Homo sapiens: one gene and its partners. The protein of the gene in region 5 purifies or fractionates together with the protein of the main gene of each other region. This does not show direct contact. Each region holds a gene or a part of one and is shown on either strand. Other genes may lie near its edges. The genes, in order: FABP3, TNNT3, MYH6, IDH2, MFGE8, MYH15 and MYOT.

Region 1 (2,662 bases), on a different chromosome or scaffold from region 5:
ACAGCTAGAAAACAGTCTGCAGTGTGACTTAACTTGTGTATTGCATTCCAGCAGACCACTGAACCAGACAGCGAAGCCAAGATCATTGTTCTACTTTGTATTTACTACTGTGTGAATCAGTTGATTCTACTTCAGGTCCTTGCTTAAATTCCTGTCACTAAATGGAAATGTGTTTGGTTTTAAACTTACTGAGTTATTTTTCCTATAATCCTTCTTCCTGGGTAACTTACAGACTTAAAGTCACTGAGCCTGCATTAGCTGACAAAAACATTTAATATGTTACCTTAGACCTTGGAGAGATGCCCAGCAGAGGTACAGAGCCAAAGGCACTAGCAGATCACTGCCTTCTTGGGAGATCACTTATAAGCCCTCCCTTTTGTAATGATCAGATGCCCTCTTCCCTCAGAGTTGATTAGAGAAGCAGTAAGAATTTGTAGTCATAAGTACTAGCCTGGTGCACAGGTCAGCAGTCCTCTTGGCCAGTGGTCATTTTCTCCCACCACCATGGTACAAGCCTGGGTTCTGTGCCCTGAACCTGAATTCTGGAAAGGGAGAGACTACAGCATTTCACAGAGAACAGCCAGACCCAAGAGCTTTCAGTGTAGGATGGGCCTGAAGTGACAGTTCAATAGCCAAACCTGGGGAAGCCCCATCACTGACTGAACTAGGTCATTTGACCATGGAGGGGGGGCAGTGTAAAGGCAACGTGTAGGTACAGCTCTTTTATTATTAAATGTGTAAGGTGATCAGCTGATTAACAGGCTCCGAGACTGTCCATTTCAGTCTCCCATCCAGTGCTTCTTCCTCAGTAACCTTCAGGCCGTTATTTCTGCCCACTCTCTGACACACAGGATAAACCAAGACTCCCAGAGTTATGTTACCAAAGGCAAAAAGGCAACTGGGTGGCCTTGGCTCTGCTTTATTGACCTCAGAGCACCCTATGAGTGCAGTTAAAAAAAAAAAAAAAAAACCACATACACCATGGGAACTGGAACTGGATCCCGGTCAGTGGCACCTGACCCCAGAAGAATTCGTGGATTTGTACAAAATGCAGAGGAAGAAATGAGGCAATGTGGTGCTGAGTCGAGGGGTAGCCGATTGGCAGAGTAGTAGTCAGCAACAGTGCAGTCAGGTCATGCCTCTTTCTCATAAGTGCGAGTGCAAACTGCAGTGCCGTGGGTGAGTGTCTGGAAGGAAAGACAGAGTGAGATGGGGGGTGGAGCCAGGAACACCATTGCGAGCATTCTACCCTCCCTTCCTCCTGATAATTGTCACTTGAGTACCTACTATGTGCCGGCTATATGTATGTATGTGTGTGTGTGTGTGTGTGTGTGTGTGTGTGTGTGTATACATACATAATTTTTTTTTTCTGATATGCACAGCAAATCCTTAAGATAGGCATTGTAATTCTTATTTTAGAGATTTGGAAAAAACGAGCCTTTAGAGAGGAAGTAATTTGGTCAAGATCCTGAGTGTTTTTCCTTCCCTTATACCATTTGGCTTCCTTCATCCTTAGTGTCTAAGATGGTGCCTGGCATATAGTTGACAAATAGGAAAAATATCCAGAGACTCAGGAAAGGACTGTGTTTGGCTACTAACTCCAATCCTTCCCTAACTTAGAGTAGTGCCAGGGCCAGAGCCCTGTACCTCCCACTATCCGGTCTGGCATCATAGAGCCAGACCCATGGCCTCACCATAGTTCAGCTGCCACTGAGAATTTGGTCCTGCATATCACATCCCCACCAAAGCTAGGCACCTCATTCCAAACTTCAAGGGGACCCCTGTCCCACATGAGTACAAGAATGCAGTTAACAGGTTATGCTGACCCAAGAAGGTGTGCAGTGAAGATGCCTAGGTGAAAACCTGAGGCCCTGTGGTTAGGCAGAATCCACAGTTGGCTGCTCTCCCTGGGTCTGGGGGGAATTCAGTCAAGGCTAGATTCTCCAAGTGAAGTCCCCAAGCTTGAACAGATCTGCCAGCCTGGCTGTGGTACTTCCTACCCAAGCAGTAGTCAAGTAGTTTCAGTAGGCCAGACATAGAAAGCATGAAAATGGGGTAGGACTAGAATGGGGAAGAAAGGACTGTACTGTCATTCAGTGTCCCCACCAGTCACGAGCCTGTCCCTGCAAGTGACAATGCAGTCCTAGGGAGGAGAGGAAAGGGAATGCTGAGATAGGCAATGGGAGCCCCTCCTAGAGGGCCTGGGATCAGATTTGGCCCTGTTTTCTACTTCTTCCTGAGGTGAGGCAAGGTAGAAACACAGGAAGAGCAAACAAAGGACATGGAGCACCTGCTGTGTTCCTCAATCAGTGATGCTTTGTGCTGTGCATACACTGTCTCTTACAGGCTTCCCAGCAGCCCTACAAGGTTGGTATTATTAATACCCGTTTTACAGTTGCACTTGGAAAAGGTGATTTGCCCACAGTCATGTAGCCTATAAGGTAAGATTTGAGTTCCGGCCTGTGTGAGTCCAAAGCCACTACACAGAAAATTCCCACCTGATACCACCCTGACCCACAACCACTCTCTTGTCCCAGCTTCTACAGCTCTCAGGGGAGGACTTGGCTTTTTAGAACAGGCTTGGCTGAAAGAGCAGTAGTAATAACCAATCAGATATAGCTCCAAAGTTGCCCATCTTACCAGGATGAGTTTTCCATCAATT
Region 2 (3,500 bases), on a different chromosome or scaffold from region 5:
TAATGGTAGAGGATGCGTGGATGGTGGGTGAGTGGGTGGGTGGGTGGATGGGAGGATGAATGGGTGAATGGGTGGGTGGGTGGGAGGGTGGATGAGTGGATGGTTATGTGAGTGAGTGGATGATAGATGGATCGATGGATGGATGAGTAGATGAATGAGTGGTATGAATGGATGGATGGATGGGTGGATGGGTGGGTGAGCGAGTAGGTGAGTGGAGAGATGAGTGAGTGGATAGGTAGGTGAGTGTATGAATGGGTGGTTGGGTGGGTGGATGGATGGATGAATGGGTGAGTGGATACGTGGCTGGTTGGATGGATGGAAGTAAGGCAGGATGGATGGATGGATGGATGGATGGATGGGTAGGTGGGTGGTTGGGTGGATGAATGGATGGATAGATGGTTGAGTGGATGGGTGTGTGGGTGGGTGTATGAATGGATAGGTGAATGGGTAGGAGCTTACGTGGGTGGGTGGATGGATGGATAGAAGGATAGATGGAGGAGAAGGGAAGAGAGATGCTTATTCTTAGAGGGGTTTCCTCTGGCCCAGGAATAAGCTATGGTAGAATTGCCCAGACCCAGGAGGCCCCGGCTCTGGCTACTTGGGAGGAAGTGACCTTCTGAGGCCTAGAGCCCAAAAGCTGGGGTGTGGGGAAACCGTGGACATGTTAACCAGAGTCCTGTAAACTTACATCGAAGTCCACTTTCTCCCCTTCTGGGATCTTAGGAGCAGTGAGTCTGAAGAGGAGACAGAGAGGCCCGTGAGCAGAGACCCGGAGACCCACCCCAGAGGGTCAGCCTGGCGCTTTCCCCGCTGGCCCCTGCCAACCCTGGTGCCCTCCTGCTCTGGCCCCCAGCCAAGCATGCCCGCCTAGTGACACGTTTGCCCCAGCTTTATTCTTATGAGGTTTGTAGCCCACCATCCTGAGAGTGGCTTGAGCCCCTCAAGAAGGCTTCCGCTTCCAGCGCCACCGTCTGCCTTTTGGCTTCTGGCCATTGCAATGTCACTGCACCCCAGCTACCAGGGAGGGCACCTCTGTTTCCTCCTCAAACAGATAAACAAATGCAGCCATGTCGGGTGAGAAGCGATGGCCACTGTGGGTGGCGGTGGCCTCCCTGGGCAGGAATGGCTGCTGCGAGCCTGTGCCTTTCCCCAGCCCCTCTTTCATCTTTCTCTCTGGGGGCCCAAAGGAAGGAGGAGAGGGGGCTGGGAAGAAAGCAATCTGAAGGGGAAATGAGGCCCCCTCTCCGGCTGGGTGTGCAGTCCCCTCCTCTCACCAATACATTCCAGATGCAGCAAAGAGTTAAAACAACAACAATTTTTTCCAACAAACCATAGAAGAAAGTGGAACTAAATATCAATCAGAAACTGGAGCAGGAAAGGGTTTCCTAAGCTCAGGAGCACCAGAAGGTGCCTCTAAGGGAAAGAAGGCCAGATGACACCACGCAAATGAAAAACGTATGTATGTGAAAAAAAAAAAAAAAACGGAAAATGGAAAGGCAAAAAAAAAAGACTAAAAAAAATTTTCAGCAAATACAGAGAAGACTTATATCCTTATGCAAACTGATGACTAAGAAAACACAGAGATTCCTCCACCAGGAGACAAATGAGCAATGGCCGTAGCTACGAGTTCTCAGAGAAGAGACGACCCATCCCAAACTCAGGGAAACGCTGGCCCCGAGTGACTGTTAGGGCGCAAAGCCAAAGAATCATGAGGTGCCGTTTCTCATCCATCAGAGGCTGCAATGTAAAAGCACGTTCCTGTCCCTGGGTGAGGAGGGTGTGGGACACAGACCCGCTCACATCCCACGTAGGAGACGGCGTTGGCCAGGCCCTTGTGGAAAGCAATTTGGCAGTGGATGTCAAAGCCTTAAGAACATTCATACTCTTTGACCCAGTAATTCCAGTTCTGGGAATGTGGCCTACGGAAATAACCCTAAAGATGGAAAACGCTTTCCAACCAGCGTTATTTATGATAGTAAAATATTGGGGAAAGCCTGCAATAGGGGAATGGTTAGGAAAATTATGGTTTGTCCAATTGATGGAATATTATGTGGCCATTCAAAATATTTAAGAAGACTGTGTAAAAACATGGAAAAATACTTATGAATAGTGCTAAATTTTAAAAAAAGCAGAATTCAAGGCCGTAGAGACGGTATGATGTTTGAAAAACAAGGCCGACTTTAAATCTTTTTTTTCCAAGCGCTATGCATGGAAAAAAGGAAGAAATAAGGCTTTTTATTTCTTTCTGCTCTTTTCCACAGTCTGGCTGGCTGGGTGGGAGAATTATAGATGACGTTTTTTCTTCATTTGACTTTTATATATTTTCCAAATTTTCTTTCATGAGGTGTCTTATTTTCATAATGAAAACACAAACAATTTTTCTAAAATGAGAAAATATCTCATGATCCAGCATTACTGTACTTAAAATCACTGAAAAATACAGTGCAAAGGGTGGGAATACGCCGGCTGTACCCTTCAGATGTTCTCACTCTTCTGAGAATCTGCAATGCTCCCCAAGTGGGAGCCAACAGTGAGTGTGTGTCAAGATGCTCTAAGATTCCACTTCGCACAGAGCAACACACAGGCAAGAGCACTCGAGAGATAAAAGGGTGAATCACGTAGCGAGTGCTGTGGCTGGTGAATACCGATCAAAAGCAGAAAAGTCAGAAGAGCTGCATTAAAAAAACCAACCCACGAAGTGCTCACAAGCAGGTGCGATGAGGACAAGCTCCTCTGAATTCTGCCCCAAAGGGGAGCAGGGGCCCCTGCACAGTGAGCTCTTCTGGACACGGTCAAGGTGTCATTCTGAAGTGGGTTTCTGGGCTGAGTCCCCCACCTTTCTCCACTTCCGGACTCACTTTCCTGTCGCTTTTCAATCTAGGACTCTGGGAGTCCTAGAAGTATGGCGGGGCTTGGTGTGGTCCCCCGAAGGCCGTGGGGTGTTGCGGTGGCCAGACTCCCTGCACCAGCTGCCCCGCCTTCCTTCCTCAACTCTCTCCCACCCACCTCTCCTCCCTCCTTCCTCGTCTGCAGCCTCCTCCTACAGGAAGCCCTCCTTGTCTGCACTGGATGACCCTGGGCAAAATCACACCCTGCTGGGCCTCCCAAGCCCATCTCCCAGGTGACCCTCATCCCTCCCACCCTGCGCTCTGAGCGTCCCTCCGAATGCAGGCTCCAGGCATCTGGCCCTGGCCCTCTCCTCCGCCTCCACCACGGAACACACGAGGCGCTGGGCCTGCCAGGACCCCACACTCACTTGGCCACCGCCACCCCAGAACACACTCGGCACTGGGCCTGCCAGGACCCCACACTCACTTGACCACCCCCACCCCAGAACACACTCAGCAGCGGGCCTGCCAGGACCCCACACTCACTTGGGTCTCGGTTTCTCCTCTGGTCCACACAGCACCAGCGTAGGGAGAGGGACACCAGCGTGGGGAGAGGGAGAGAGACAGCCTGGGTGAGACTGGGCGGCCTGCGGCCCTGGGTTCCCCTTCACT
Region 3 (3,500 bases), on a different chromosome or scaffold from region 5:
AACAAGAACCTTCAGGGTGTGCTGGGGGTCCAAGAGGCCAGAGATGAGTTGGTGGGAGGGAGGGCCATGCAGGGGCAGGGGGAACATAGGCTTTGAGCTTTCTGGCCCTCTGGTCCCCAGAGGAAATCTCGGACCTTACTGAGCAGCTAGGAGAAGGAGGAAAGAATGTGCATGAGCTGGAGAAGGTCCGCAAACAGCTGGAGGTGGAGAAGCTGGAGCTGCAGTCAGCCCTGGAGGAGGCAGAGGTGAGGGCCGAGAACTCCCTGCACCCCATCCCTGTTCTGCCGCTGTCTCCCACTTCTCCCTCACCTGGGGGTGACCCTGACCCCAGGACAAAATCTATTCATTCCATATTCTTTGTTCAACATTATCTACCCACTATTCACTACCCATGACTGCCTCCAAAGCCAAGGTCTGCACAAAGGAAAATGTCAGTCTGATTAGAGGCCAAAGGTTTTGTTTCCCACCAGGTTTTAAAAGTTGGAATCTGGCCATAATAATAACCACTTAGACAGTGGGTAGGAGTGTGGGGTTCCAGAGTCAAACAGGCCTGAGTTGGAACACAGCTTGAGGACTTTCACTGCAGCGTTGGGCAAAATCTTTAATCTCTCTCTGCCTCAGTTTTCTCATCTGTAAAATGGAATTAACTGTACATACCTCATATGATTTTACACATGATTATTATAAAGATTAAATGAGGTAACACATTTAAGCACTTAATATATATTAGCTATTGTTACTCTTCATTTCTAAGCACCTGGGAATAGCCCTGAGTTTTCTGGGCTTCTAACTTTTCTCAGGAAAGGGTGAGGGACCTGGAAAACAAGATAAAATTTTGTATTTGTGGTTATAAAAATTCCTCCATTTTCTATAATACTTTAGACAGGTCAGGAATTTATGCAGTGTTAGTGCTGGAGGGTCTGGCAATTGTGAGGTCCAAACCCTTTTCTTGACAGGGGAAGCCCAGAGAGTCCAGCACTTTCTCCCCAATAGCACCGTGGTGGGCATGGGGTGCAGATCCCACCTCCCCATCTCTTCTCAGCTCTTCTTCTCTGGGCGATAGTCCTGGCTGACACCGTGTATCTTCTCATCCTCCCTCTCAACCCTGCCCTGTGCCCTGTCTGCCCGCCCTCGCCCCACCCCTTCCCAGGCCTCCCTGGAGCACGAGGAGGGCAAGATCCTCCGGGCCCAGCTAGAGTTCAACCAGATCAAGGCAGAGATCGAGCGGAAGCTGGCAGAGAAGGACGAGGAGATGGAACAGGCCAAGCGCAACCACCAGCGGGTGGTGGACTCGCTGCAGACCTCCCTGGATGCAGAGACACGCAGCCGCAACGAGGTCCTGAGGGTGAAGAAGAAGATGGAAGGAGACCTCAATGAGATGGAGATCCAGCTCAGCCACGCCAACCGCATGGCTGCCGAGGCCCAGAAGCAAGTCAAGAGCCTCCAGAGCTTGCTGAAGGTACATGGGGGCGGGAGGTCCCCTCAGGGGACTGGCCTCCATGTGGCCTGGAGAAGCAGTGGTGTCTGGATACAGGCACCAGATTCCTCCTGCCCCTGGGTTACTGCAGGGACCTCTGACAGGTGCCCTCAGTGAAGGGCACCGAGGCTGGCTTCTGCTCACACCCACTCTCCTGATGCTCAGGACACCCAGATCCAGCTGGACGATGCGGTCCGTGCCAACGACGACCTGAAGGAGAACATCGCCATCGTGGAGCGGCGCAACAACCTGCTGCAGGCTGAGCTGGAGGAGCTGCGTGCCGTGGTGGAGCAGACAGAGCGGTCCCGGAAGCTGGCGGAGCAGGAGCTGATTGAGACCAGCGAGCGGGTGCAGCTGCTGCATTCCCAGGTGAGGGGGTCAGGAGCCACCTTGTGGAAACCTACTGAGTGCAGAGCCCAGGACATCTAGAAAAGCCAGATGTTCTAAGTGAGCACATCTAGCCAGGGTCACAAATCATTTCCTCTCTTAGGCCAACTCTCATCTGTGGTGGCTGCAGAACCATTATATTAAGAAAGCGGTCTCTACTTAGAAGCTAAGAGGGTCATGATTGATTGCTGATACCTGCCAAAGCCACAAATCTGGGAGTAGTGGAATGTATCCTGTTATTTGATATTCTTGATCTGAAAGACAGCCTCCGGCTTGCTCTGTAAAGATGAGAGTTTGGGAGTTTAAAGAAGCATAACTGCATCTCTTGCAAACCAAGCTGGCTAGAACACCATTTTCTGCAATCCCACCCACACTGTTTTCAGTTATACTCTGCAATGAGACTTTGTGCTCACCTTTTGCAGTGCCCTGTGGAGTTTTGTTCTTTAATCTAGTATGTGTGAGAATGACATCATCCACTTACCTCATCCCCTCTTCCTTACCCCACTACATTCTTGGTATAGCTATAAACATCTCTGGAATATTGTCCTGGTAAAAAGTTGTTTCCATCTTCCTTGGAATATTGTCATGCTCCTACGTAAACATGTTGCTAAAGAGCTCCAGGGTAATACTGCAGACCTTTTGCTATTTGAAGTCTTTTTTCAGAGTTTAGTAATCTTAGATACAATGTCTAGAATGTATGCACTTTCATAGGAAAAGGGAAAGCAGGTACAAAACGATCAATAGTCTAAAAGTGGGCTTGTTGTTTTAAAAAAAAAATGACCACCTTTAATTCTTTCTGGAGAAAGGGTATGAAATCAGGTAACAAAGTGTAGTATATATTTGATCATTTTTCTCTCTCCATGTCTAGAACACCAGCCTCATCAACCAGAAGAAGAAGATGGAGTCGGATCTGACCCAGCTCCAGTCGGAAGTGGAGGAGGCAGTGCAGGAGTGCAGAAACGCCGAGGAGAAGGCCAAGAAGGCCATCACGGATGTAAGTGACCGCCCACCTTCCGCCTCCCCTAAAGACAGAAACAAGGCCTTGGGTCCAGGCCAGGCCACTGTGCTGTAACACCAAGCCAACTCTGCAGTTCTGTGGATTTGAGGGCCTGATGGGAGAAAGGAGATCCTTGGGGGGCAAAAGGCCCCGGCCCCTGGCCCATGTTCCTTGCCACCTCTCTCCTGCACACAGGCCGCCATGATGGCAGAGGAGCTGAAGAAGGAGCAGGACACCAGCGCCCACCTGGAGCGCATGAAGAAGAACATGGAGCAGACCATTAAGGACCTGCAGCACCGGCTGGACGAGGCCGAGCAGATCGCCCTCAAGGGAGGCAAGAAGCAGCTGCAGAAGCTGGAAGCGCGGGTGCGGGAGCTGGAGGGTGAGCTGGAGGCCGAGCAGAAGCGCAACGCAGAGTCGGTGAAGGGCATGAGGAAGAGCGAGCGGCGCATCAAGGAGCTCACCTACCAGGTGCGGCGGACGCCAGACACCAGGAGTAGATGTGGAAGTTTCTTCTCTGGCCCCACTGCCCCGCCCTCACAGGGCTCCTCTCACCTCCTCCTTGAGATGCTGTTGGTAGATTTAACGTTCTTCTCACGCTCTGCAGTCAGTTTGACTTGAGTCTATGAGTTTTTCCAG
Region 4 (4,004 bases), 1.2 Mb from region 5:
GCTGGTCTGGAGCTCCCAGCCTCAAGCAATCCTCCCACCTCAGCCCCCCAAAATTCTGGGATTACAGGTGTAAGCCACAGTGCCTGGCCTTCCTTAGCTCTTGTACCCATATATCATACTAGTCAACATCTATCTTGCTTACTGTCTGCCCCCTCCCACATCAGAATTTGAGCTCCTAAGGGTTTTGAAAGAGTCTCTGCTGGTTTTATTCCCAGCTCTATCCCCAGCACCCGGCATGGTGTCTGGCACAAAGTAGGAGTATACTACTTTTGTCAAAGACATAAATAAAGGTCAAGTTGAAGTCAACTCCATCTGTGGTCAGGGCTGCCCTGCCCTCACCTTCTGTTTCACTGAATGTGTTTCCTCCCCTCTCACCCATCTGGTATGCATTGCCACACAGGGGCCAGTGAGTTCTTACCAGCAGCCTGCACCAGATGTACACGGGTGGCATCTCTCTCCAGCAATAGGCCCCATGCCCTGAAGAAGCTTACAACCTACAGTGTACTAATATTTGCAATCTGCTGGTATTTTTAACATGGGTTTACAGAGTATAAACCCCAGGGAAGGCCACAGACCCTGGCTTCCAGTAATCTGAGAGCAGTTTCCAGCACCTCATACCCTGAATGGAACCAGCCCAAGGGCCCTCAACTTCACACAGAAGATGTGGGAGCAGGCCTCAGCCATTCCAAAGAGGCTTTTCCTCAGTACCTACTAGGCCTAAACACAACCACCCCAATCAGCTCTGGCAGGGCAGCTAGGGCCTTATCTGACGTGGCAGAAAGATCTGCACACTTAAGGGGCAAGAATTAAGAAGTTTCTGGGTTAGGAGTGAAGGAAGGCTAGATAAGTAATTCTGCCACTGAGCCGTTCACAGAACTGGTCCGCACTGCCCCAAGCTCTAACTTACCAGAAACATCACCAGCAGTCGCTGGAAGCCTATGGCGTTGCAAAATAGGAAAAGATGCGTGCAGGAATTACCAGGCAGCAAAGACACGGGGCTCTTTTAGCCCCAAAATATTCTTTCCTTGTCATCAAGGGGAATGCCAAGTATTCTGTCTCCAGCTGCGTTGCCAGGTAACAAGCTGGCAGAGTCGCAACTGTAGAGTCTGATGTCCAACTCCAACACCAAGCAATTTCCCCATTCATAACCAACCCACATGGGGACTTCTAGAAGGGCCTGCAACTGACTGCTTTTTCTGTATCCAAATTCAGGACCCTTAAAAGGCGCTTTGTGTTCCTGTTTGTGTGTGTTTTTCGGGTTGTTTGTTTCTTTTTTTTTTTTTTACCATCAAGGCAGAAAAAAAGGGAGAATTAAAGAATGTGGCTAACTTCCACCATATTTTTGCTGAAGGTGGTGTGCTATATGGGAATCTTTGGGTCCTGGGGCACTTGGAACCTGGGAGTTGTTGGGCAGATCCCTGAGGTAGATTCCCAGAGGTACAAAAGCAGACATGCCCCTTTCTCCTTGGCAGGGAAGGTAGGACTGGGGCCCAAGCCTCCCTACCCCCCCGGCTCTAGTCAGCTGCTCCCACAATCCGGTTAACCATTACCTCCTCTGGCCAGGTCAGGGCCAGCGGGCCCCATCCCCTCTTCCTCACTCTCCTGGCTCACTGCAAGGGGCTCCTGGCCAGATTAGGATAGGGGTTTCCATGGCAACAGGCATTAGGCAGGGCCAAGGGACCTACATTGTTCCCTGCCTTTTGTAGCTGTGTTGGGTAGCCAGGGTGAGGGGGCAGGCCGATGCCCACACGCCAAGCAAGGCAGCCTGCGTTGGCAACGGAGGCTCGGGCTAAGTCTTGCTTATTACGACCCGACTACTGTCTTCCCTCCTAAGCAGGGAACTAAGGGTACCCAGAAGCCGTGGGAACGATTCCGCAAAGTGACATTTTGCGCGGGCTGCCAGGTCTCTGCGGCGAGTGAGCCAGGCAGGGAGGGCATGTGCCTGCCAAGGCAGGTCAAGTCAAGGAGAGGCCCCAGGATGGAGCCTCAAGTGCAGCGATGAAGGCGAAGGGGTGGGGGTGGGGGCGGCCAAACAAAAGGGGAAAATTAAAAAGGACGCTCCTCCAGCTGTCGTGTAAAAGGCTCCAAAAATAGCTGACGTGGGCCTGGTATCAGCGCGCGCCTGGCTGAAAAGGAAGGGGAAGTGCATGTCTCCCGCCTCCCAGCCTTTGTCTGAGCAGGGGCCGAGCCACGACCCTCCCTCTCGCCAGGGGAGCGCGCGGGGTGCTCCAGCCCCCCACGGGTGCTCGTCTCGTTCCAGGGGCGCAGGGCGGGCAGGCCACCCTTCGGGTCCGGGACACTCTCAGGACCCCCTCCCGAAATACCTAGGGGCGCGCGGCAGCCCCGAGCCCCCGCCCGCGCAGAGCTGGCCGTCGCCCGGGCCACCAGTTGCCACCGTCCCTCAAGTCCCCACCCCAGCGCCTGGCACGGCCGGGAAGCGCCGGGCGGGGGAGCGCGGAGCGAAGCTGCCCCGCGGCCCTTTGTGCGCCTGACCCCGCCGTCCCCGGGCTGCGGGCTGGCGGGACGTGCTTCCCGGCCCCAGCCTGGGAAGCCGCCACGTCGCAGCTGGGGGCGCGCGCCTGCCTGGACCCTCCGCGCGGCACTCACAGTGGCGCCGCGGCTGCTCTTGCGAGGTGGGGGCTGTCAGGGCCGCCGGCGCCCAGGCCGGCCGCGAGCCTGAGGCTCTGCAGAGCGAGCGCACGACCCGCAGGTAGCCGGCCATCCCAAGCTGGAGAGCGAACGAGCAGGGCGGGAGAGGTCCGAGCGCGCGCCGCTCCTCCCGGCTGCCTGGCCGCGGGCTAACGCTGGGCCTGGCGGGCGCTGGCCGCGCGGGCACCACCGGGGCGGGGCTGCCGGGCCTGCCGCCCCATTGGGCCTTGCCGGGGAGGAGGCGGGGCCAGGGCCGCCGACGCCTCCAGCGTCCCGCGGGAGCCGGGACCCGGCGGCCAGGCCCGGCTGGTGCTTCTCTGGGCGCCGCTGAAAGCCCAGCTCCGCAGGAGCTACAGGCGTGAGACCCACCGGGACCCGCGAGCGGGATCAGGGCTGGGGGATTAGCAGAGCCGCTTGCGAGGCTGACCCTCTCCAGGATGCCCCATGTAAACCTGGATGTCAGTTTCTGACGCTTTAGCTTAAACCCAAAAGCCAATCTGAGCGAACTCTTGCTTCCCTCGCCTGCCGGGCTGAACCCAAAGGCGCATTAGCCCAGTGCGGCTGCTTCATTCTTGAGCTAAGACCGCCGGCGGCGTCTGCGCCTCCGCGAGTCCGCTGTCAGGTCCAGCTGGTGTAGAGAGAGTTGAAATCTCACTTTGGGCCGGGCGCGGTGGCTCACGTCTGTAATCCTAGAACTTTTGGGAGGTCGAGGCAGGCGGATCACTTGAAGTCAGGAGTTCGAGACCAGGCTGGCTAACATAATGAAACCCCTGTCTCTACTAAAAATACAAAAATTGATCGGGCATGGTGGCGCGCGCCTGTAATCCCAGCTACTCAGGAGGCTGAGGCGGGAGAATCACTTGAACCTGAGAGGCAGAGATTGCAGTGAGCTGAGATCATGCCACTGCACTCCAGCCTGGGCAACAGAGTGAGACTCCGTCTCAAAAAAAAAAAAAAAAAACCACGAAAAAAGAAATATGATTGGACCAGAAGGCCAATAACCTGAGTGGGGAAACCCAGCAAGTCCTGTCCGTGTAGATTCTTCTTGACCTTTCTCTGCAGCATTCCTTCCTTCTGAGTACGGGGCAGGACTCTCTCTGGGATGGAGGGGTCTTAGGACCTGCAAGCAAACAAGGTAGGTCAGATAATTTATGGCCAGTTTTTACCCAGAAATGTGTGGGAGAAAGAGTAATATTTTTGGGTTCGATGTCTGGCTTTGGGGGAGAAGGGCTCTGGTTTCTATGACCTGCCTTGAGGAAGAAGGATTCCAGTTTCTATGGCTGGCCTCGGAGGAGAGTGAGGGGCCAAAGACAGGAGGGAGGGAGAGGGTCAGAGAGAGCTGCTCCTGAGGCCTG
Region 5 (3,500 bases):
GAGTAATTCTCACAGATCACCTGGGGATCTTGATATAAAAAAAAAAAGCTTATGTTTCAGCAAGTCTAGGCTGGGGCTTTCAGTCTGTATTTCTTTTTTTTTGTTTTTTTGTTTGTTTGTTTGAGACACAGTCTCGCTCTGTCACCCAGGCTGGAGTGCAGTGGCATGATCTCGGCTCACTGCAACCTCCACCTTCTGACCGGGTTCAGGCAATTATCCTGCCTCAGCCTCCCTAGTAGCTGGGATTACAGGCACCTGCCACCACGCCTGGCTAATTTTTGTATTTTTTTAGTAGAGACGGGGCTTCGCCATGTTGGCCAAGCTGGTCTTGATCTCCTGACCTCAGGTGATCCGCTCGCCTCGGCCTCCCAAAGTGCTGGGATTACAGGCGTGAGCCACCGCACCCGGCCTCAGTCTGCATTTCTAAGAAGCTCCTAGGTGATGACACTGCGGGTCCCTGGGGCTCTTCACCCACCAAGCTGCCCCTCCATCTCTTGGCTCCAGCTCCACTGGCCTTCCTTCCACCCTTCAACATGCCCCAGGGCCTTTGCATTTACCAATTCCTTGCCTGCAGTGCTCTTTTTGCAGTGCTGTTTTTAAGTTTTTCATGTGGCTGGCTCTCCATCATTCAGGCCCCCAGTCAAAGGCCTTCCCGACAGAGCAGTCCTTGTCTTGCTCTCTCCCCTCACCCCAAGTCATGGTCATCTCATCAGCCTCTAGCTTTTCTTCAGAGCTGTTACTGCTCTCTGTCATCTGCTCCTCGCCTCAAGTCTGCCTTCCTTGCTACAATGCAAATTACATGAGGTCAAGGAATCATTCCCTAGAGCCAAGCACCCAGGAGGGGCTTAATCAATATCTTAATAAACATCCATCGAATTAAATAATTAATTTACCAAAGACACCATATGTCTGCAAAGAGGAATCCCTTGTGGAATCCCAGGTACCCCCAGACCTCAGCCCCACCCACACACATGCACACGTGCACACATGCACACATGCACCAACACTCTCCAGCCGACTGGAAGGCCTATAGGGAAAGGAGTGGTCCAGACCCTGAAGGAAGCAGACAGGGTACCTGGGCTTCCTTGGTTTGCAAGACTCACCCTCTCTTGGCCCTGAGCAGGGGCCAGTCATGCCTGGATACAGGCAACTTTAATGGCCAAAGGCTTCAAGCCAAAACAGCAAGTGTCAGGGACTCCAGGGAGAGGCACACAGACCTGGCTCTGTCCTTTCCCAGTAGCCTACATTTCCTTCTAGCAGAAGGCAAAGTCTTATACTCCCCACTGAAACAATACGGCTCAAAAGGGCCCCTGGTGGAGGAAGCATACCTACTCAAGTTCATACTAAAAACACTGAACCCAGCCAGGCACTGAACTCAGCTCTGAGGGGTATTTGGGTGGTGTCTGAAATGAGACAACAGGAAGAGGTGTCACAGAGGGGAAAGGCGGGGCACAGGAGGGCAGGTAAGATCAAAAGGCCAGCGGGTAAGATAAGAACCTCCACTCTGCAGCTCTGCTTAGCGAGCCCTACAGTTCCACTGATGGCCAGCAGGTGGCATTGTGGCTGCAAAGAGAGAGAAATACCCAGACCTCAGGAAAGCTGGGTTGAGCTGGGCTGAGACAATTAATGTCTGTCAGCCCAAACCCGGCACTCTGACCTCGCCCAGGCTGTCCCCTGGCTCTGCAGAAATCTGTCCCTTTATGGTCTCCCCAGCTCTTCATCTGGGAATCTCTTTGGAAAAGGCAGCAGGAAGCACCAGCTCCAAGCCCTGTGGTCCAAGAAGCCCCTGTGTTTCTCTGGAGTGCAGACTCTTAAGAGTTTGGCAGGGAAAGCTCTGGATGGGTGTGGTCGGGAGCCCAGAGATCTAGACCAAGTCTTAATACCTACCAGATGTGTACCCTTAATAAATCATTCATCGGGGCCCCACGCCCCTCATTCATTCATTCGCTCATTCATCAAATATTTATTGAGTACCTATAAACCAGACACCATTCTAGGCCCTGGGAATACCGAAGCAAACAAAACAGACAGATTCTCTGCCCTCGTAAAGCTGACATCTGCCAAACACACCTAACGCTACATGTTCTAGAAGCTACAGGAGAGGAGCCAACCAGAAGAAGGGAAAATACTTTGAAAACTGATGTCTTTTTCTCTATCAATCAGAATGCCCTGGGTCATGGGTTGGCAGACAGCAAACACCTGGGTGGGGCTGCTATGGCCAGGTGACCCCCTAGAGTGCGTTGCCCGAGTGAAGCCTGGTCCCCGTGCCTTGTTGCTGCCCTACCTAGCTCAGTTTGGCTGAGAAAAGAGGCAGCAGGGAGGGCCACCTCCTAGGATTGGCCAACAGTGCCCCCCTACCCGCACCCCCAGCACTCACCGTTCAGCTCACAGCCCAGTAGCTCAAAGCGCAGAGTGCAGGCCGTGTGGCAGCTCGTGGGGTACAATCTCACGTACTGAGCCTCCACAGGGGTCTCAAACAGGTTGACATGCACCGCGTTTTTGTTCCAGTTACCCACAAACTCCTAGCAGGGAAGGGACAAGACTGGAGAAGGGGGTCCATCTGAGCAGTCCCCCTCCCTGGGGTTACCTCATCTTCCTCTTCAGACCTGGGAGGCAGAGGTGGGGCTGGGAGGGTGAAGAGGACTTGGAAGAGCCAGCAGAGGCTCACACAGCAGCCTCTCCTTTGGCCACCCCACGGCCCTCCACAAAGATTCTCCTCTCACTTTCCTTAATCATCATGGAGCCTGGGCATAAACCCCTATAGCTGACACAGGGCCACCTGTAACCTACAGGGTACCTCTTTGCAAATTAGGAAAAGGCACTCCTTTCTCAAATAGTTTATTATGACAATTTTCTGACAGAGTTCCACAAATGTACAATGCCTGTACTGTGAATGGTGCCTGCTTAGCAATGACATCCTTGAGCAGTGTACAACCTACACAACTGTACATGTACCCATGAAGGCTCAGAATGAAACCCAGCTCCACCACCACTATCACCCTCAACAGGTCACTGTGCCATTTTGAATCTCACTAGTCTCATCTCTAAAGTGGGACTATTGCTTATAAACCACAGAACATGGACACAGTCTGGGTTTCCCAATTTCTAGAAGCCAAGATGCACCCGAAGACCCACATCATAGCCAATCACCTAGGGTTCTCTGGACTCGCTGGGGGTCCTCAGTCAATGCTAGAACCTTAGGGGGTATGGACCACAGCCCTTCTTTCGGGCCCCAACAAGACCTACCTTGTGTTTTTTATTAACATCATGGATGAAATCGAATTCGTGTCCATTAAGGCTGTAGGCCACCTTGAAGGCCTTCAGGTACTCATGACTGGCCAAGCGGCTGGCACCCTGCGTCACCACACCTGTTACCCACATCCTCCGCAGCAGGTTCACCTGGACACAGGGCAGGGGAGATGGCACCCTTATCTCCTGGGTTCTTTCCACTCAAGATCCAAGCAGACCCATCCCTTCACTCCCCCACTGGGTGGGGGAAC
Region 6 (4,161 bases), on a different chromosome or scaffold from region 5:
GCTGGCAGAAATAAAACTAACTCTTAGCCTGAACCAGTAGGCTTTGCTTTAAATCATACTCCTTTAAACTAGATCCTACAAGTGGTATCACTATACCTATCCAAGCCACCACAAAGAAGAGAGCAGATTAAGTGCAGTAAAATACATTAGTTTATTGGATTTGTTCATTGCAAGATAGTAAGTGATTACAGTTCATTCTGAAGTGGGTGCTGATCTGTCCTCAAAGACAGCACCTGAGCTAAGCAAACTTGGCAAGTCCTTCTCTACCTTCTTACCTATAAATGTGATGAGTAACACTTGCCTTGCATGCTTGAGTGAAGAGGAAGACTTTTTTTGTCCAAATAGAGAGAATAGCTTCTCATTTAAGATCATGAAGGCCCAGTTTCCATTTCTTCTTCTCCCTGTTATCAAATGTAAAGTGTGAAAATTAAAGATAAACTATGTCCAGTGTTTGGTATACAGTGGGTGCTCAGTGACTTCAGCCTTGGTAATTTGTCCAGCAACTTAGTCCCTCTAAGACTGATACTTGCCTTGCTTGAGCCAATGAACTTCTTTATTTATTCCAGCTTCACTCACATCACCATGTAACCTGCTTGCCACCTTCAGCCTGGGCTTCTTCATTACTGCTCTTGGCCAGGCCTCCCAAATGCCCAGCTGTGCCTGTATTTTTGTAAATCATTTGCTCCCAGACACTTATCTCTGCCAAGATACTTATCTTTTTATCCCTTTACTGTCTATTACTGAACATTTATCTGAATCACTTCTCTTTGTAACCATACTCTGTCTATAACGGTCTGTCTGCTTGGGGGTAATTAGATACCTCGAAACCCCCCTCCACGCCTATCAAAGGCCTAGTGTCCGCAACTTGATGTTTCTCCATCTGGAATATCCTACCACCTGTCAGAACTCCATGGCGCAGGGTGGCATTATGACTTTCACTGACTACAGGCACTTCTGTCTTTTAAGGACCATTTCTCCACAAAAAAATATTAAAAATCAGATTTCATAACTGTGTTGGCCTAAAGATGAATATAATCCAGGCTCTGTTCATTAATATGTATCATTCATATTACTTTTATATTTTTCTTCTGATTTAAAAATAAATTAAACATTTTCATGGGCCCCTAAAAGCATTGTGGGCCTCAGGCACTGTGCCTTCTATGTCTAGTGGGTAAGTCAGCCCTGCTAGAGTCAGATATTCTTGAGTCCAATTTTGTATAAATTTGAGACATAGCGAAGAGAAAGAAGGGGCACAGGTAGTTACAGGAAAACTTAACACTCTTTAGTCTATCTATGTGAATGGTTGCTCATTTAGAGCTTGATGCCTTATTTCCACTTTTTTCTTCTCTGTATCAATTTTTTTTTTTCAGGTTGAATCTTGCCTACTCACGTTTAGGGCCTTTTTTTGGTGGATTGCTTTAATAAAGATGGATCTGTCAGACCTTGGAGAAGCCGCAGCCTTCCTCAGAAGAAGTGAAGCTGAGCTGCTTCTACTACAGGCCACAGCCTTGGATGGTGAGACATGTGGTGGTTGCTGGCTTCACTTTATTTTGCTCCTTCAAGATGGTGACTAAGATATTTGATTGACAGAGAAGAGCCATCAGTTCTAGAGCCTAACTTATTTGCTTAGGGTATGATCAGCCTCTAGGAAACTGAGCAATTGAGGGCCTCTGAGTATCCAGGGTAGGAATGGAAGTACCCACAGAAGAGGAGGGTGGCTGGGAGGCAGTCTAGGCCCGGGCCCTACACACTTGATCCTAAGACAGATTTTCTCTTCAAGGAGCCCCTGTTGTAACACAGACACCTGCAGGAATGGCCAGACAAAGCCTTTCCTAGAAACCTCTTAGTTATCAGTGAATGCCACAGTAGAGAGAGGGGCCTGTGACTTAGACTGGTGGGTGGGGTTTGTACATTGTGGGGAAGAAGAAAGGGAAAGACTCTGGTAAGGCTGCAGACTTTGAAGTTGTCTCTGGCTCTCCAGAATTTTTTGATGTTGGAGCCTTGCCTCTAGCGGTCTTCTAGGTCAGCAGGGTCACTCAGCCAACACTAAGCAAAAGGTAATTAGGAGACTTGCTCACCCTGATTCATAATTCCTTGGTAGTTACAGGCAAGGACAAAGGTTAATGAGGATTTAGCCTTAAAAAAAAAAGGCTAAGTTCTACATTGAAATCTCTAAATAAATGTTATTCTTTTTCCTGCTACCTTTACATGTCTGTGTTGAATTTCAGCTAATTGGAGATTTAGAAATCAGATTCACAGTATGATATAACATGAAGCTACCTACATGTCTTAATCCAAAATTATTCAGCAGTGCAACATAAGGACTGGCTGAATGTCGTTCTAGTATTCAGAATTAGTCAACATTAGACTTTAATATGACCAATTATAATTCAAGCCAGTTATGGAGGATATTATATTTCCATCACAGACCAGTCCTGGATCAGTTCCCAGTTTCCAGTCATTGGATTCATGACTGTGATTGGATTTTAGGCTAATTATAATCCATCAAATCAAATACGATAACAGAACTATCCCTGAGGTCAGAACTGGTCATGCAGAGGCTTATCGCAGGTAGTTAGATAATGGAGGACAAGATAATAGTGATGCCAGGAAGAAAAAAAAATTGAGCCTAAGCATTAGAGATAATTGGATGATGCATTTATTAAAATCAGCACCATAAATAATTACTTAAAACATAGCAATCTACATAATTTCCTGTTAATTTTTTGGACCAAACAATCCTTCCTCATAGAAATGCACTGGCAGCAGAGACAAGTGTTAGCAAAAGTTGTTCATCTTCCCAGGCTGGTAGACAATGGAGTTTGCTTTTTTGAACTCGGGTCAAATGGAAGTAGTGTGATGACGAGTATTTAGCAGGTAGTCTTGGGATCAAATTCCCTGTCCTTGACCATCTCTGGCTGGGTAATTAGAGCAAATCACTTCACTTTATTGAGCCCTGGTTTCCTCATGTATCAAAGGAGATAATAATACTTGTCCGGTCTGCCTTCCTCCATTGCTGTGGGGACCAAATGAGACTATAAATGTGAAAAATAAATATAATGCATTATTATGATACCCGAGAAGGAAAACTAGAATTCCTGGGTGACAGTGAAGAAGCCCAGGTGGTTGTAGAGCTAGGACAAAACACCATTCGAAAGCCAAATGTAAATAATTCTTATATTAGAACATGTAAGCGATCTATTTAAAATAACTATAAGACTGAATATAGTATTACCCCTGTTTTAATCAATATCCTAGAAAAAAGATTCAAAAGAAATGCTTCAATACATAACAGTGGTTATCTCTGAGTTGTTTGATTATGGGTGATTAAAAACATTCTTTTCTTCATACATTATTCTTCAAGTTTTCTTCAATAAGCACATATTAGCTTTATATTGGAAAAGATATTTAATTGTCTAAAAAATGGAATCATATAGAAAAAGGCCTACTTTACAGATGAGAATACGAAGGCCAAAAGAGATGAAGTCATGTGGCTTTATATCTTTTTACCAGCAAAGCCAGTGTTAAAATCCTGGCTGCCTCCCTCAAATCCATTGCTATCTACATTTCCAGCTCTGCATTATTCATGAACACCAGGAATTAAAATTGACAGAGTTCATTTACTTCATTTTTTAAAATGTCCCTGTCAGGGTTTGGGTCTCCTATGAGAAAGGATTTCTGATAATTTTTATTCCCCACTAAGTGTTTCCAGGGGTGGTAAGAGAGAGACTTCATCATGAGGCAGGTGGTGAGCCTACTCCTGGAGAGAAGAATTGGAGGAGAAAAAGCTAAGAATGTGTTAGAGGAGGCAGGCTGTAATGCAGGAGCACTGATTCAGGAGGTGGATGATCTCATTTCTAGAGTCATTATTGTAGTGACTGCCACTAATTAGCTATGTGACTATGGGCAACTCTCTTCATCTCTCTCCCAAGGTTCTTTTTCTAAAAAGAAAGAGAAAGAGAGACAGAGGGAGAGAGACTGTGCCAGGTGACCTTCAAGTTTCTTTCAAGTGATAACATTTGGTTTAAAATGCAGAGCATTTTACCTTAAACACACACACAAAATGTATGCTAACTGGGTGCTTTTCAAAAACAAGCATATTTTCATAGACATAACACAAAGCAAAATCAGTTTTTGCAAAAAGGGACCAAAATAATGAAT
Region 7 (3,500 bases), on a different chromosome or scaffold from region 5:
AAGTAGCTGGGATTACAGGCACCCGCCACCATGCTCAGCTAATTTTTGAATTTTTAGTAGAGACGGGGTTTTGCCATGTTGGCCAGGCTGGTCTCAAACTGCTGACCTCTGGTAATCTGCCTGCCTGGGCCTCCCAAAGTTCTGGGATTACAGGCTTGAGCCACCGCACCCGGCCTGCAGGGACTAATCTTTATTAATCTATTTAATGTGAGGAAACTAGCCACTGCCCTCAATGAGTATTTTACCATTATTATAATAAATGTTCTCTGGCTATCCAGATGAGACAATCTTGGTCTCTTCTCTGAAATGATCCTTTCCAAATATTCTCAAGGATCATTAAAAGGACTTGTGAGCTAAGTATAAATGTATTTCCTCCAAGTAGGGCCAGAGTTTTAATTTTTACTGGCTTTGGGAACTTGGTTAGTAATCATTAGATTGTAAACATTCTGGAGAAAAAATATGTCTTATTTGTTATCATTATATCATTTATATCCACGAACACAGAGCATGGGTATAGGAGATACTATCAGTTGAGTGAATGAGTGATTTTCATAGTATTCAGGACACTCTATTGAAAGCTAATGATACACATTTCCTCTCCTGACATTTCAGGTCTTAAGATCTTTATGGTTGTCTATATAAATTTTTAAAGTCTGATTTGTTCAGTTAATAGCCAAACAAAATGTTTTTTAAAATAGCGATTTTTTTTTTAAAGATTGAATTCCTAGATCAAAGTGTCAAAATCTCTTTGGCCTTATAGATCTCATATTTTTTCAATCGTATAGAATTATAATAGACCACTTTTTTTTTTTTGAGACGGAGTTTCATTCTTGTTGTCCAGGCTGGAGTGCAATGGCATGGACTTGGCTCACTGCAACCTCTGCCTCTCTCTATGTCTCCCGGGTTTAAGCGATTCTCATGCCTCAGCCTCCCAGGTAGCTGGGATTATAGGTGCCTGCCACAACACCCTGCTAATTTTTTTGTATTTTTTTTTTAGTAGAGACAGGGTTTCACCATGTTGGCCAGGCTGGTCTCAAACTCCTGACCTTGGGTGATCCATCCACCTTGGCCTCCCAAAGTGCTGGGATTACAGGTGTGAGCCACACCTGGCCTAGCCTACTGTTTTTTTTTTTTTTAAAAATGCTAGCTTATCATCTTTATAAGTCACACATTTGTTAATGTGAATTAGCATTAAATAATTGTTTTTAGACTTGTCATATCTGGGAAATTCTGAATATATCTGAGAAGTCCTGAAGGATTATCAAAACCAATCCTGAGAATCACTGATGTATATGTAACCTCAGTCACTTTGTTCACTGAATACTCTCATTATTCCCAGTTTAGGTGGATTAAGTGTTACGACTTGATAAATGCTCCCATTTACAAACTAATAGTACGTTTGCACACTGCTTTATAGGTCCTTTCTCTATCATTAATTACCTAACTCTTTAATATTGCTACAGACCAGAAAATTGAAGCACTGGGTAGGTAAAGTGCTTGCTGAATTTCACATAGCAAGCTTTTTGGAAGGAACAATTGAGTTCCCCTCAGTTTTCAGTCTGTGGTTTGATCAACTGGGTAAAATGTTTGCCTAAGAGCTTCCTATTGATGAAAATCTAAATAAAGCTTTCAAATTTCTCTAGGTCAGAATCCAAGGGATTATTTTGGAAGTCAGGGCGAACTGGAGCCCATAATAACGAGGGAGTTGTGCACAAATGTTCAAAGGGCCAGGGCTTTCCACTCTGCACAGCTGGACACGAAATGGGTATCAAGTAGCTATGGGAAGATTAAAGAGTTATCTGTGGTTGCTGAAAATGGAACAGCTAAAGTGGATCTTTGATCTCTGGTTTGGGGACCTCCTAGGCTTTATTTCTTATTATGTTTTTGCCTTTCTCTTTTCTTAAGTCTTTGATCACTTTCTTTTCTGGGCAGTAATTTGAAATATGATTGAAAGACTTTACTAAGAAAAACAAAAAATTCTTCTAGATTTTAAAATGCTAATATAGGAAATATGGAAATAATAGAAAGCTAGATGGAAAATGATCATCTGGGTAAATATAACCAAGAAAGATCTATATATTATAAAGGGAATTTGGGAGGGAAGAGAAAGAAAGGGCTCTCAATTATTAAAAACATCCTTTTAAAATATTAGGTTAAACCTGTGAGAATGCCATTTTTGTAGGTCAAAAACAGTTGACTATCAGCCATTTCAAATGGTTCAACTTAATATCTATAGGATTCTAACAAATGTTTTTGGTTTTCCTGATTTTTATTTTTTAAAATATTGAAAAGGTTTTTTTTTGCAAGTTGAATTGCTATAGGCAGTTCAACTAGATTTCCAAAGTTGTCACCAATAATAGGAGTTTGTAGAAAAATTAGCCTCTAGAGAAGACTGCGAGAAATTAGCAGAGTTGAGTGAATGTATTAGTAAGCCTGCAACAAAACATATTCCATCAGACAATTTTTGAGATGCCTCTGATTTAATTCTCTGATGTTCCAGCCAGCCAAGGAACAGGAAAGCTGATAGCCAATAGTTTGCATAAGCACAAGGTATTCAGTTCATGTTTTAAAAAAAGCATAACCACCATCTCCTTTTTCATACTAGGTTCTCCTAGGACAGTCTTAGGGTAGTGGAAATAGCACATGTTTACATAAGGCCCCAGTATTAGTCCCTGTATTTAGATCAACCCAACTAATTTGAACAAGGTGTGGTTTTAATTACCAAACGAAACCGTAAGGTCATAAGCCTTCATCTATTCAGGCCTTCCTTCTTCTGATCACAGTAAGGAAAATGTATACATTCCAGGGTCTGAGTTCCAGGTTTTTTTATTTGTTAATTTAAAAATTTTTCAGCCAAGTGGATATTCAGGATTAGAGGGGAAAAGGGATAGGAAGAAAAGACTGAGAAGAAACTTAATAGCCTCTGCTTATGTGAGAGGAAATCCTATCTGAAGAAGAGCAGACAGGTGTTCATCTTAGCCAAGCCCAGAACCAGAGGAATTAAATTTACAGCATGAGGAGCTTAGCTTAGAACTAAAGGAAAAGTTCATTGTTCTTTGGTATGTGAGAAATTATTTTTTTCAAAGATGGAAAATAATGGGTAAATAATTTTATGGGGTAATAGGTAATTGGATTCAGCGCAGCTTGGACACTGGAGAATAGTCAGATGACCTCTTATTGCCAGTACCCTGGTTCAGCATGTTCTAGTAGAACTATGGAATGAGACTGTAAGGTCACATTGCCTTTTTAGATAGTAAAGAATGAACTGCAGCATACCCCCAAAACTCCTACCCCCTCGCAAACTCCTCAGATATAAGTTCACTGTACATGCGGTATATAAAAATTCACTTACTTGGAATCCATAGCGGAAGGGATTTTACTGCTATTGTAATCAGGCTGTGATGGTAATATGGAGCTGAGGAAGCTGGCTGGGGACTGGTTATAGGTGGTTGTAACCCTTTGGCCTGGGTTGGAGCCAGCATGCTGCTGGGGAGAAGCAG

What was found.
Region 1: the proteins of MFGE8 (region 5) and FABP3 purify together in Homo sapiens (co-immunoprecipitation; one large-scale study listed by IntAct). This does not show direct contact.
Region 2: the proteins of MFGE8 (region 5) and TNNT3 purify together in Homo sapiens (co-immunoprecipitation; one large-scale study listed by IntAct). This does not show direct contact.
Region 3: the proteins of MFGE8 (region 5) and MYH6 purify together in Homo sapiens (co-immunoprecipitation; one large-scale study listed by IntAct). This does not show direct contact.
Region 4: the proteins of MFGE8 (region 5) and IDH2 purify together in Homo sapiens (co-immunoprecipitation; one large-scale study listed by IntAct). This does not show direct contact.
Region 6: the proteins of MFGE8 (region 5) and MYH15 purify together in Homo sapiens (co-immunoprecipitation; one large-scale study listed by IntAct). This does not show direct contact.
Region 7: the proteins of MFGE8 (region 5) and MYOT purify together in Homo sapiens (co-immunoprecipitation; one large-scale study listed by IntAct). This does not show direct contact.

Annotation. Positions count from the first base shown.
Region 1 is NC_000001.11:31,364,753-31,367,414, forward strand, and holds the end of FABP3 (fatty acid-binding protein, heart), read right to left. Parts: coding exon 2,641-2,662; intron 1,188-2,640; coding exon 1,134-1,187; 3' UTR 501-1,133; downstream 1-500. UniProt on the Homo sapiens protein: FABPs are thought to play a role in the intracellular transport of long-chain fatty acids and their acyl-CoA esters.
Region 2 is NC_000011.10:1,929,703-1,933,202, reverse strand, and holds part of TNNT3 (troponin T, fast skeletal muscle), read right to left. Parts: intron 3,399-3,500; coding exon of another isoform or gene 3,394-3,398; coding exon 3,375-3,393; intron 735-3,374; coding exon 689-734; intron 1-688. UniProt on the Homo sapiens protein: Troponin T is the tropomyosin-binding subunit of troponin, the thin filament regulatory complex which confers calcium-sensitivity to striated muscle actomyosin ATPase activity.
Region 3 is NC_000014.9:23,384,274-23,387,773, reverse strand, and holds part of MYH6 (myosin-6), read left to right. Parts: coding exon 1-16; intron 17-120; coding exon 121-245; intron 246-1,150; coding exon 1,151-1,459; intron 1,460-1,642; coding exon 1,643-1,846; intron 1,847-2,732; coding exon 2,733-2,858; intron 2,859-3,056; coding exon 3,057-3,332; intron 3,333-3,500. UniProt on the Homo sapiens protein: Muscle contraction.
Region 4 is NC_000015.10:90,099,669-90,103,672, forward strand, and holds the start of IDH2 (isocitrate dehydrogenase [NADP], mitochondrial isoform 1 precursor), read right to left. Parts: upstream 2,801-4,004; 5' UTR 2,723-2,800; coding exon 2,608-2,722; exon of another isoform or gene 2,464-2,607; intron 954-2,463; exon of another isoform or gene 908-953; intron 1-907. UniProt on the Homo sapiens protein: Plays a role in intermediary metabolism and energy production. It may tightly associate or interact with the pyruvate dehydrogenase complex.
Region 5 is NC_000015.10:88,903,380-88,906,879, forward strand, and holds part of MFGE8 (lactadherin isoform a preproprotein), read right to left. Parts: intron 3,400-3,500; coding exon 3,247-3,399; intron 2,523-3,246; coding exon 2,378-2,522; intron 784-2,377; coding exon of another isoform or gene 737-783; exon of another isoform or gene 1-736.
Region 6 is NC_000003.12:108,507,797-108,511,957, reverse strand, and holds the start of MYH15 (myosin-15), read left to right. Parts: upstream 1-1,361; 5' UTR 1,362-1,370; coding exon of another isoform or gene 1,371-1,427; coding exon 1,428-1,515; intron 1,516-4,161. UniProt on the Homo sapiens protein: Muscle contraction.
Region 7 is NC_000005.10:137,870,860-137,874,359, reverse strand, and holds part of MYOT (myotilin), read right to left. Parts: coding exon 3,353-3,500; intron 1-3,352. UniProt on the Homo sapiens protein: Component of a complex of multiple actin cross-linking proteins. Involved in the control of myofibril assembly and stability at the Z lines in muscle cells.